Homo sapiens: one gene and its partners. The protein of the gene in region 3 purifies or fractionates together with the protein of the main gene of each other region. This does not show direct contact. Each region holds a gene or a part of one and is shown on either strand. Other genes may lie near its edges.

Region 1 (3,656 bases), on a different chromosome or scaffold from region 3:
GCAAATGGCTTCGTGCTTTGTTTTGCAGCTTTGGAAGCTTCTTAAGGAACAGCAGTTCATTGAGACATAATTTTAAAAATGAGGTTGAATTAACACTGTTAATGCACAAATTCTAAAATTTCAAATATGGCTGGTAGCATTGGATCTGAATGCAGACTTTGACCATGGCTTAGAGTGGTTATATTTTATTTGGGAATTTTAATGGTTTAGAATGCCTTGATTTATGTCTTGTGTTATGTTTTTATTTAAAAAGAAGGCACTTTAAAAAATTCCAACCCTTTCATAGTGGTATTGATACAATGATACACTGTTTTTCTTGAAAATGTGATTAATGGCCAGTTTTTCTAATTGTTTCTATAGGATTTTTGTGAGCATGGAACAAAGTCTGGGTTAAACCAGGGGGCCATTTCTACTCTTCAAAGTAGTGATATTCTTAATTTAACAAAAGAACAACCTCAGGCCAAAGCAGGCAATGGACAGAACTCTTGTGGAGTAGAAGATGTCCTTCAGCTTCTGCGTATTCTATATATAGTTGCAAGTGACCCTTATTCAAGAATATCCCAGGAAGGTCTGTAAGAAGCCTTGTTTCATTTCTATAGCAGTTTTAAAGCAAGTCAGTTTATATTTTTATTAATTTTATTAATTAATTTTATAGATGGTGATGAACAGCCTCAGTTTACTTTTCCACCAGATGAATTCACTAGCAAAAAAATTACAACAAAAATATTACAGCAGATTGAGGTAATAAAATCAGACAGCTGAACTCTTCATTCTATTACTGTTGGACTTTTCCTAATATTCCCTTTACTTTCTTTTCTACCTCTCACCATCTTTCCCTTCCCTCTGATTGGTAATTTGAGCTATATGGTCCTTTGCATTTATTTCCTAATTACAGGTTTATAATTGACTTGGTAATTTTTAATAATTGCCTTATAGGGTCAGGTGTGGTGGCTCATGCCTGTAATTCCAGCATTTTGGGGGCCAAGGTGGGTGTATCGTTAGAGGCTAGGAGTTCGAGACCAGCCTGGCCAATATGGCGAAACCCAGTCTCTACTAAAAATACAAAAATTAGCTGGGCACGGTGGCACATGCCTATAATCCCAGCTACTTGGGTGGCTAGGGCAGGAGAATCGCTTGAACCCAGGAGGCAGAGGCTGCAGTGAGCCGAGATCGTACCACTGCACACCAGCCTGGGCAACAGAGTGAGACTCTGTCTCAAAAAAAAAAATGAACGAATGAATGAATGCATGCATGCATGAATGCCTTATAGCACTAAGACATTATTATTTGTTAATTCGCAGGAACCATTGGCACTGGCAAGTGGGGCTCTGCCAGACTGGTGTGAACAATTAACCAGCAAATGTCCTTTTCTAATACCATTTGAAACTAGACAGCTTTATTTCACATGTACAGCATTTGGCGCCTCAAGGTAAGAAGCCTTTTTTTTATGTTTTTAGAATAAGTATGCTTTTATGTTATGTAAGTTGAAAATGTACAACTATACTGTCAAGACTGATAGAGGGAATATATTATCTTGTATTCTTATAAAGAATAGTCAGCATTGCCTTTTGGCCTGAACTACCAATCTTCTAGTAATTCGCCAAAATGACTAATCCAAAGGAAAGGAGGAGAGATACCCGATAGATGTTTTCTAGGTCTTTTAGAAAACATGGAGTTGTTCCTTTGGCCACGTATATGCAAATCTAAAAGAGAGGTGATACTGTAGACATTAAGGGAATGGGTACTGTTCAAAAAGGAATGCCCCACAAGTGTTACCGTGGCTAAACTGGAAGAGTCTACAGTGTTACCCAGCAGGCTGTTGGCATTGCTGTTTTTTTGTTTTTGTTTTTGTTTTTGTTTTTTTGAGACAGAGTCTCGCTCTGTCGCCCAGGCAGGAGTGCAGTGGTGTGATCTCGGCTCACTGCAACCTCCGCCTCCCAGGTTCAAGCGATTCTCCTGCCTCAGCCCCACTGAGTGGCTGGGATTACAGGTGCACGCCACCACGCGTGGCTAATGGCATTGTTGTAAACAAACAAGGGCAAGATTCTTACCAAGAGAATTAATGTGCATATTGAGCACATTAAGCACTCTAAGAGCCGAGATAGCTTCCTGAAACACATGAAGGAAAATGATCAGAAAAAGAAGGAAGCCAAAGAGAAAGGTACCTGCATTTAGCTGAAGTGCCAGCCTGTTCCACCCAGAGAAGCGCGCTGTGTGAAAACCAAGGGAAAGAAGTCTGAGCTGCTGGAACCTCTTCTCTGTGAATTCATGCATAATAGTGTTTAAAAAAAATAGCCAGGCGCGGTGGCTCACACCTGTAATCCCAGCACTTTGGGAGGCCGAGGCGGGCAGATCATGAGGTTAGGAGATCGAGACCATCCTGGCTAACGTGGTGAAACCCCATCTCTACTAAAAATACAAAAAGTTAGCTGTGTGTGGTGGTGGGCACCTGTAGTCTCAGCTACTTGGGAGGCTGAGGCAGGAGAATGGCGTGAACCTGGGAAGTGGAGCTTGCAGTGAGTAGAGATTGTGCCACTGCACTCCAGCCTGGGCGACAGAGCGAGACTCCATCTCAAAAAAATAAAAAATAAAGATAAAAATAAAAGACCTCTGGACTGTAAAAATGTTTCTCTTCCTTGAGTAGAAGTGTGGTGTCCTCTCCCCCAAAGAAATACTTCAGGCAAATTTTAATTTTGTCCTAAGCCTAATTGTGTAATGTCTTTACTATTCAAATTTAATGTATTTCTTGCTGAAAGATGTGAGATGGCTTATTGTGCAACAAATTACTCAATTGGTTAGAAAATGGTCAGATATTATTTACGAAATATTTGTACTACTTTGAAGATAGTCCCTCTAATCATGGAAGAAGTAATTTACCAAAAAAAAAAAAGCATTTAAAAAGTTTCTGTTTTCAGGCTGGGCACGGTGGCCCATGCCTATAATTCCAGCACTTTGGGAGGCCAAGGCAGACACATCACTCGAGGCCAGGAGTTCGAGACCAGCCTGGCCAATGTGGCAAAACCCCATCTCTACAAAAAAACACAAAAATTAGCTGGGCGTAATTCCAGCTTTTTAGGAGGCTGAGGCATAAGAATTTGCTTGAACCCGGGAGGCAGAGGTTGCAGTGAGCTGAGATTGCACCACTGCACTCCAGCCTGGGCAACAGAGCAAGACTCATTGTAGGTGCTCAATAAATATTTTGTTGAATGATTGTTTACCTTAAGTACTCTTCCAAAATAGTTGTAAAAAAAAAGTTATAATTTAAACTGTTTGTTTTCTTCCCTGATAGTTACATTTTTGTACCATTTAATGCCATTTACAAAGCATTTATATACATAGAACTATAGGCATGTTGTGATAACTGGCATTGATTATAATTTGTTTTATAAATGAGGAAATTGATTCTGCACGTACTTAGCTGATTTGCCTAAGATCATGAGAAAATAGTAGCACACATGAGAGTAGAACCTTCAGCTTCTTATTCCTAATTGTCGGTTCTTCCTCCCACCATAAATGGATTGTTATTAAAAAAAAGAAAATGTGGCCGGGTGTGGCGGCTCATGCCTGTAATCATAGCACTTTGGGAGGCTGAGGCGGGTGGATCAGTTAAGGCCAGAAATTCAAGACCAGCCTGGGCAACATGGCAGAACCCCCAT
Region 2 (2,882 bases), on a different chromosome or scaffold from region 3:
ATGGCGCCACTGCACTCCAAACTGGGAGACAGAGTGAGACTCCATCTCAAAAAAAAAAAAAAAAAAAAAAAAAAAAAAAAAAAAAAAAAAAAAAATCAGAAAGGACAAGAAAAACAGTTGACTGTGTTAGGATGCAAGGCTGAATCTCTGCACATTCTATTTCCTCTGAGGCAGTGCTTATTTTCCAAGGAAGAATTTTTGGGTGTGCTATACTGGAGGTCTCCCTTCTCAGGGAGAGTCATCACTTGCTCCAAAACGCTGGACCTCAGCTCAAGGGCACCACTGCAGGAGGAATAAAAAGGTGGAGCCACGCAACAACTCGTCTGTGTTCCGCAGTAGGCTCTTTTTGAGGGACTTCCAGAAATGACAGCATGTGTGCAGAGAACAGAAAGCAAAGTTACACTGTTACAGAAGGCACAGAAGGAAAACCTTCGGCTACTGCTATCAGTGGAATTTCTCTGTAGCCAGACTGAGGTCTGGTGGCATTTGAGATATAATATAGATATAGACCTACAAATACAGATCTCCAGGCTGTTCATTCAACAAGTCTTTATTGAGCACCTACTCTGTGCCCAGCACTGCACTAGGTGCCATGAGAATACAAGAGTAGTATAAGATGTTATCCGCCCTCCAGGAGCTTACAAAACTAGAGGCAGAAATAAGATGTACATGTGACTCAGGCAGCATGTGACACACACAAAGTGGGCAGCTCTGAGACAATGGTGGTCAAGTGACCACTGAGGCCCAGAGCCGTTGGAACAGTCTCTTAGAACAGGGTGGAGGACTTAAAACTTGGATGAACAGGGGCTGGCAGAGCACTTGGAATGGGTAAGGACAAGACTGGGAGATCAATTTGGCTGGAGCAGGGGAGCTTGTGTTAAACTGTGATGATGAGGGGCACCTGGACAGAGGTTGGGTCCGTGGGCAATGAGAAGACATGTTACTCCCTCTCTTGACATGAAGACCTGGTGGGCTTGTGGCCTCCTGCTGCCTTCCTTTCCCTGTCTTCCCATCTCCACTCTCTCCTAGGAAAGTGGAACCTGGATGCTGGTAGGGCCAGAGACAGAGGCTTAACACCCTGCTGGGGAACCCGGTCAGAACTCCCGAGGCAGGAGAGGTTCTGCTCCACTGGATGTTTGTCTTGGTGTTTTTGGATGTGCTGATCAAGAGCAAGATGTTCTGGATTCTTAAAACTCCCCTCACAAGGACCAATCTAGAGATAATTTATTGATCAGTGATCACAGCTTGTACCCCAAAGCCGTGTATGTCTGGATCCTTCCCTAAGACCACAGATAGCTCCAGGGAGTCCCACCTCCTTGGCTATGGAAATATGCTCAGCCCTGGTTTCAGAGAAGCCTGGACTCCACTCTGGACCCCATGAGATGATATGCGCTGGTACTCCAGGCTTTAAATGGCCTGGGAAGCCTCAGTGGATTTTGTTTATTTTCAGCATTGCCATGTATGCTTAACTCTGAGTTGGGGTGGGGTAGGTCTGTTTAAAATGCCAGGGAAGGTGGGCAGCAGAGTGGATTTGTGCAAGAAGGAACCTGGGGGGTTTAAGGACAGCAAAATGATCTTAGGCGTAATTGACTGGTTTTTCTGAGGTCTTGCCACACTGGGCAAGAAAATGCTGCATCGGGCCCTTATTCCAGAGAGTGCAGAGCTGGGGCCAAGGTCGTGGTCAAAAAGGAAAGGAGCCCTCATGGACTCCAGGGTCAGAAGTTCCCTCGGGAAACCAGCAGGAGGTGGGAAAAGAGCCCCATTAGGGCAGTAGATGGAGCAACAGCACTGAGTGAGATTTCAGGGGGCCACAGCAATGGGGAGGTGGCTACCAGTGGATATGGGGTCCCCTGCTCCAGGTGCTTAGGCCAGGCATCCCGTCCCCCCATTGAGAGTCCTGGAATTCCAAAGAAGTGAAGCATCTGAGGGTTGGGGCTGGGGGCAGATGTCAGGGCTCAGGGTCTTAGCAGGAGGCGTGTTCCTGGCCACTTGAGCCACAGGAAGGGGACCAGGCGCCGGGTGAAGGTGGCAGTGAAGGTGTAGATGAGTTCCTGTGACTCTGCGTTGGTGAAAGTCACGGTGCCCCCTTCATAATCCAGGGCGATGCCCACTCTCCGGGGCCGCAGTGCTGGGAAAAGCTCAGCCTCGGGGCTGGTGTTGGCCCAGATGCCGGAGGAGGAGAGGCGCAGCGCCCACACGCCATCCTCTGGCCGCAGGGAGAGGTCTCCCTTCCTCTTCACAGAGTCTCTAGCCACCCCCACCATGCAGCTTTCCAGAACTTCCTCCTCTTCCTCCTCCTCTTCTTCCTCTTCATCGCCCAACGATTCCTCATCTTCGTCCGTTTCCCAGTCGTCATATCCATCCCCATAGCCGGCCTCCTCTTCCTCCTCCTCCTCTTCTCCCTCTTCCTCCTCATCCCCCTCTTCTTCATCCTCAGACCAGCCCTCCCTCTCCACTTCCACTTCCCAGTAGACCTTGCCCCAGGTGAAGCCCTTGCTGCCTAGCACCCCAGGCTCACAGTCAAACTGCTGGGGGTGCAGGTAGGCACTCTTGTACAGGCTGGTGTAGGTCACGCACTTCCAGTCCTCTGACAGCTGCAGGTACCCACTGGCCGACTGTGGGTCCAGGGTGACGCTCACTGTGGGGACAAGGGAAAAAAAAAAAAACAGCATCACTGTTTTGTTTTGTTTTTTAAGTCAGAGGGAATAAAATTTATTTTGGCAGATAGCGTTAAACAAAATTAAAGTTGCATACATTAGTAATATAACTCAACATCCTTAATTTGGTATAAGTGTGACACATTTTCTGGCTTTGTATTCTGCTAAATCACCATAACTAAACTGCTTTATAAACATGATATACTGAAATTTAACTTGACTGTT
Region 3 (3,656 bases):
CCTGTAGGAGAGCTTTTTGGTTGTGTGCAATTTGGGGTTAGTATGAATAATGCTGCTGTGAGCGTTCATGTGCTAATTGACAATATGAGTCCTTGTTGGTGGGTGACATCCCTGGCCACCCTTTCATGTCTCTTTTTCTGTCTTCATGGCACTTTCCAGGCACAATTCTGCTTTCCCTGGAACTGTGTCATTCAGGACTCTGCAAATTCCCTAAAGTAGGAGGAAAAATGACCATGTCCAAGGTAAGTAGGACTTGCCTCTCTTACTGTTAAAATTCCATCTCACTACTCAGATTGTTGTGTGTTTTTCTCTGCCCTGGGAAGACTCAAGGAGAACAGCAGGACTTTGAGGATCTCTTGTCACCTGGCTAATTTTTGTAGTATTAGTGGAGATGGGGTTTCATCATGTTGGCCAGGCTTGTATCGAACTTCTGACCTCAAGTGATCTGCCCGCCTCGGCCTCCCAAAGTGCTGGGATTATAGGCGTGAGCCACCGCACCCAGCCAGAAAGCCTTCATTTAAAATGGCTAGTAATACTGGGCTGGGTGCAGTGGCTCACACTGGTAATCCCAGCACTTTGGGAGGCTGAGGCAGGCGGATCACCTGAGGTCAGGAGTTCGAGACCAGTCTGACCAACATGGAGAAACCCCATCTCTACTAAAAATACAAAATTAACTGGGCATGGTGGTACATGCCTGTAATCCCAGCTACTCGGTAGGCTGAAGCACGAGAATCACTTCAAACCGGGAGGCGGAGGTTGCAGTGAGCTGAGATTGGGCCATTGCACTCCAGCCTGGGCAACAAGAGTGAAACTCTGTCTCAAAAAAGAAAACAAAACAAAAAAAGTCTAGTAATACTGAAGATTGGCCAGTCACTTGTGTACTGTCACTCATTTACTTCTCAAAGCAGCAGAATGAGGAGGTTCCTGATCTCTTCTCCTAAACTCATGAAATATGAGAAACCTGCTCAAAATCAGAGGCAATCAAGGAACAGGAATGTTAGCCATTCTGCTCAAGTGAAAGAGAGAGACGAGAAGAAAGAAAAATTCTCCACTGAGGGTCTGGTGACCTGTTGTGTGGATGTCTGGAGTGCTCCCTTGAGTGATGACATCCATAGGTGGCGCTGCTTCTCCCTGTCCTGCGTTGGTGTGACCTCTTCTTTTCCAGACCTGGCACCTACTCAGGTGTACTCATTGTTCCAAGTACCCAAGGACAGTGATTACCACAGCTGTTCTTATCTCCAAATTCCTCCTTATGGCACAAGATACCTCACACATTTTTTCTTTGGCTGGGCGCGGTGGCTCACACCTGTAATCCCAGCACTTTTTCGGAGGCTGAGGCAGGTGGATCACTAGGTCAGGAGATAGAGACCATCCTGGCTAATATGGTGAAACCCCGTCTGTACTAAAAATACAAAAAAAAAAAAAAAAAAAAAATTAGCCGGGCGTGGTGCGGGCGCCTGTAGTCCCAGCTACTCGGCAGGCTGAGGCAGGAGAATGGCGTGAACCCAGGAGGCGGAGCTTGCAGTGAGCCGAGATCGCGCCACTGCACTCCAGCCTGAGTGACAGAGTGAGACTCTGTCTCAAAAAAAAAAAAAAAATCCCTAAATTCCTCCTTATGGCATAAAATGCCTCACCATTTTTTTTTTTTTTTTTTTTTTTTTTGAGATAGAGTCTCTCTCTGTTGCCTAGGCTGGAGTACAGTGTTGCGATCTCAGCTCACTGCCAGCTCTGCCTCCCGGGTTTACGCCGTTCTCCTGCCTCAGCCTCCCGAGTAGCTGGGACTACAGGCGCCCGCCACCACACACCCGGCTAATTTTTTTGTGTGTTTTTAGTAGAGACGGGGTTTCACCGTGTTAGCCAGGATGGTCTCGATCTGACCTCATGATCTGCCTGCCTCGGCCTCCCAAAGTGCTGGGATTACAAGCGTGAACCACCGTGCCCGGCCCGCCTCACACATTGTTACCAGAAAAAATGACAACCTGGGGCAAAAATATTTACCCCTTGGATAGTTAAGGAAGAATAAATCCAGAATAAGAATCTTCTAAAAGGATAAAGAAAAAAGTTCAAACAGATTGGAACAAAGAATACTAAAAGGCAATTGTAAAAGAAGAAATAGAGATCGCCAATAATCTTGAAAAGTGGTGATACTCATTTATAATAATAAGTGAGAATGATAGAATGAATTGTTCTTCCTAATCAGATTACAAAACCATGGGAATATTTATAAACTGCTCTTGGCTATCATAAGGAGAATTAGGGTACTTGTATTCTGTTGAATGATTAGAGAGGTAGGGAAAAAAGTGAGAAGAAAGTATGCAATTATATAATGATAATATTAAATGTGCTTATTTTTCACATTTTAATTTTCATATGAAATTATTTTAAATGAGACAGAGTCAGATGTTCTTACATCTTACTACTTACCATATCATCTTGGCCGGACTGATAATGGAAAATATGTGAAATTAAATATTTATTATTTAGTGTAGCTAAAAATAGATCATCAGTTCCCTGGAATACTATGGAACCCTGAAATAGATAATGGTAATAACAGTAATAAGTAATACCAGCTAATGTTCATTAAACAGTCTGTGCCGTAGACTTTTCAAAATACCGTATATTTCTTTTCTTAATTCTTGAAAAAACTCTTGTCATGTAAGAACTATTATTCAGAGAGGGAACAAGCCTTGTAGGAAAACATGTCTGAGGTCACATGGTTAGAAATGGGCAGACTCTCAGAATGTGCACTGAGGCATTCTGGCTTCTGATCAGGACACTAAATGCTGCAATAAGCATATGTGGTTTGTGCCTTGCGAGTACAGAAGACACACTGCATAACTGTCTCAGGGTACCATGGAGCAGGTTCACTGTGCACTGATTACCAACTCGTGTGAGTCCTGTGGGACAGAACACATTCACACGCAACAGATTGCATGAAGCAGATTTATTACTACAGATTGGCAGCAGGCGAGCCCAGAAGCCTAGGGTCCAGTATGAGCTGGCCATCCAGGGCTCAAGAAAGCTACCTGGAGCAGATGGAATCTTGACTGTATGTGCCCCACTTGCACCAGAGCTGAGGCACCCCAGAAGGTAACCTGCCCCCATTTATATACTTCAGGGTGCCATGACTCATGGAGAAAAACTTGAAGGTCATCTTCCTTCCAGGTGAGAGAGGAACAAAGCCCAGACTGTCAAAGGCAGTTCCTCCCCATAATATTGCATTCTTAGAATAATCTACAGTTATTCTTGAGAACTACAAGCAATAAAGGGGAGAGAGCTGGGTGGGGTCTGCACCCCAACTGTCCTGCAGTCCATCCCCTGACCCAGATATCCCTCTTAGCAAACTGGTCCATTTCATATGTCCATCGACCTCCCCTGGCCTCCCCTGATCTTGTTAGATCAGTGTAACACCTTGACTGACACAATCTCTGCCAACTTCATGGAATTATAGCTGGAATACATTCCGTGGACCCCAGAGGAGCATGACCACAAGCAGCACAGCCAGACCTTCCTGAAGTAGTAATCCTGCCCAGGTCCCAGTTATCAAAATAAGAAGCTGCTGAAGATACCAAAGAAGAATCATTCAGGTGGCCCCAGTGTCTGAAGCCAGTGGACCTGCTTCTGGGTTGCCTCTCATTGAGTTTTTACAATAGCTA

Evidence for each region.
Region 1: the proteins of ZNF223 (region 3) and HECTD1 purify together in Homo sapiens (affinity purification with mass spectrometry; 2 studies listed by BioGRID and IntAct, with this or other methods). This does not show direct contact.
Region 2: the proteins of ZNF223 (region 3) and TRIM26 purify together in Homo sapiens (affinity purification with mass spectrometry; 2 studies listed by BioGRID and IntAct, with this or other methods). This does not show direct contact.

What each region holds. Positions count from the first base shown.
Region 1 is NC_000014.9:31,110,189-31,113,844, reverse strand, and holds part of HECTD1 (E3 ubiquitin-protein ligase HECTD1), read left to right. Parts: intron 1-360; coding exon 361-568; intron 569-655; coding exon 656-741; intron 742-1,301; coding exon 1,302-1,429; intron 1,430-3,656. UniProt on the Homo sapiens protein: E3 ubiquitin-protein ligase which accepts ubiquitin from an E2 ubiquitin-conjugating enzyme in the form of a thioester and then directly transfers the ubiquitin to targeted substrates.
Region 2 is NC_000006.12:30,183,921-30,186,802, forward strand, and holds the end of TRIM26 (tripartite motif-containing protein 26), read right to left. Parts: intron 2,639-2,882; coding exon 1,956-2,638; 3' UTR 535-1,955; downstream 1-534.
Region 3 is NC_000019.10:44,054,950-44,058,605, forward strand, and holds part of ZNF223 (zinc finger protein 223), read left to right. Parts: intron 1-159; 5' UTR 160-227; coding exon 228-242; intron 243-3,656. UniProt on the Homo sapiens protein: May be involved in transcriptional regulation.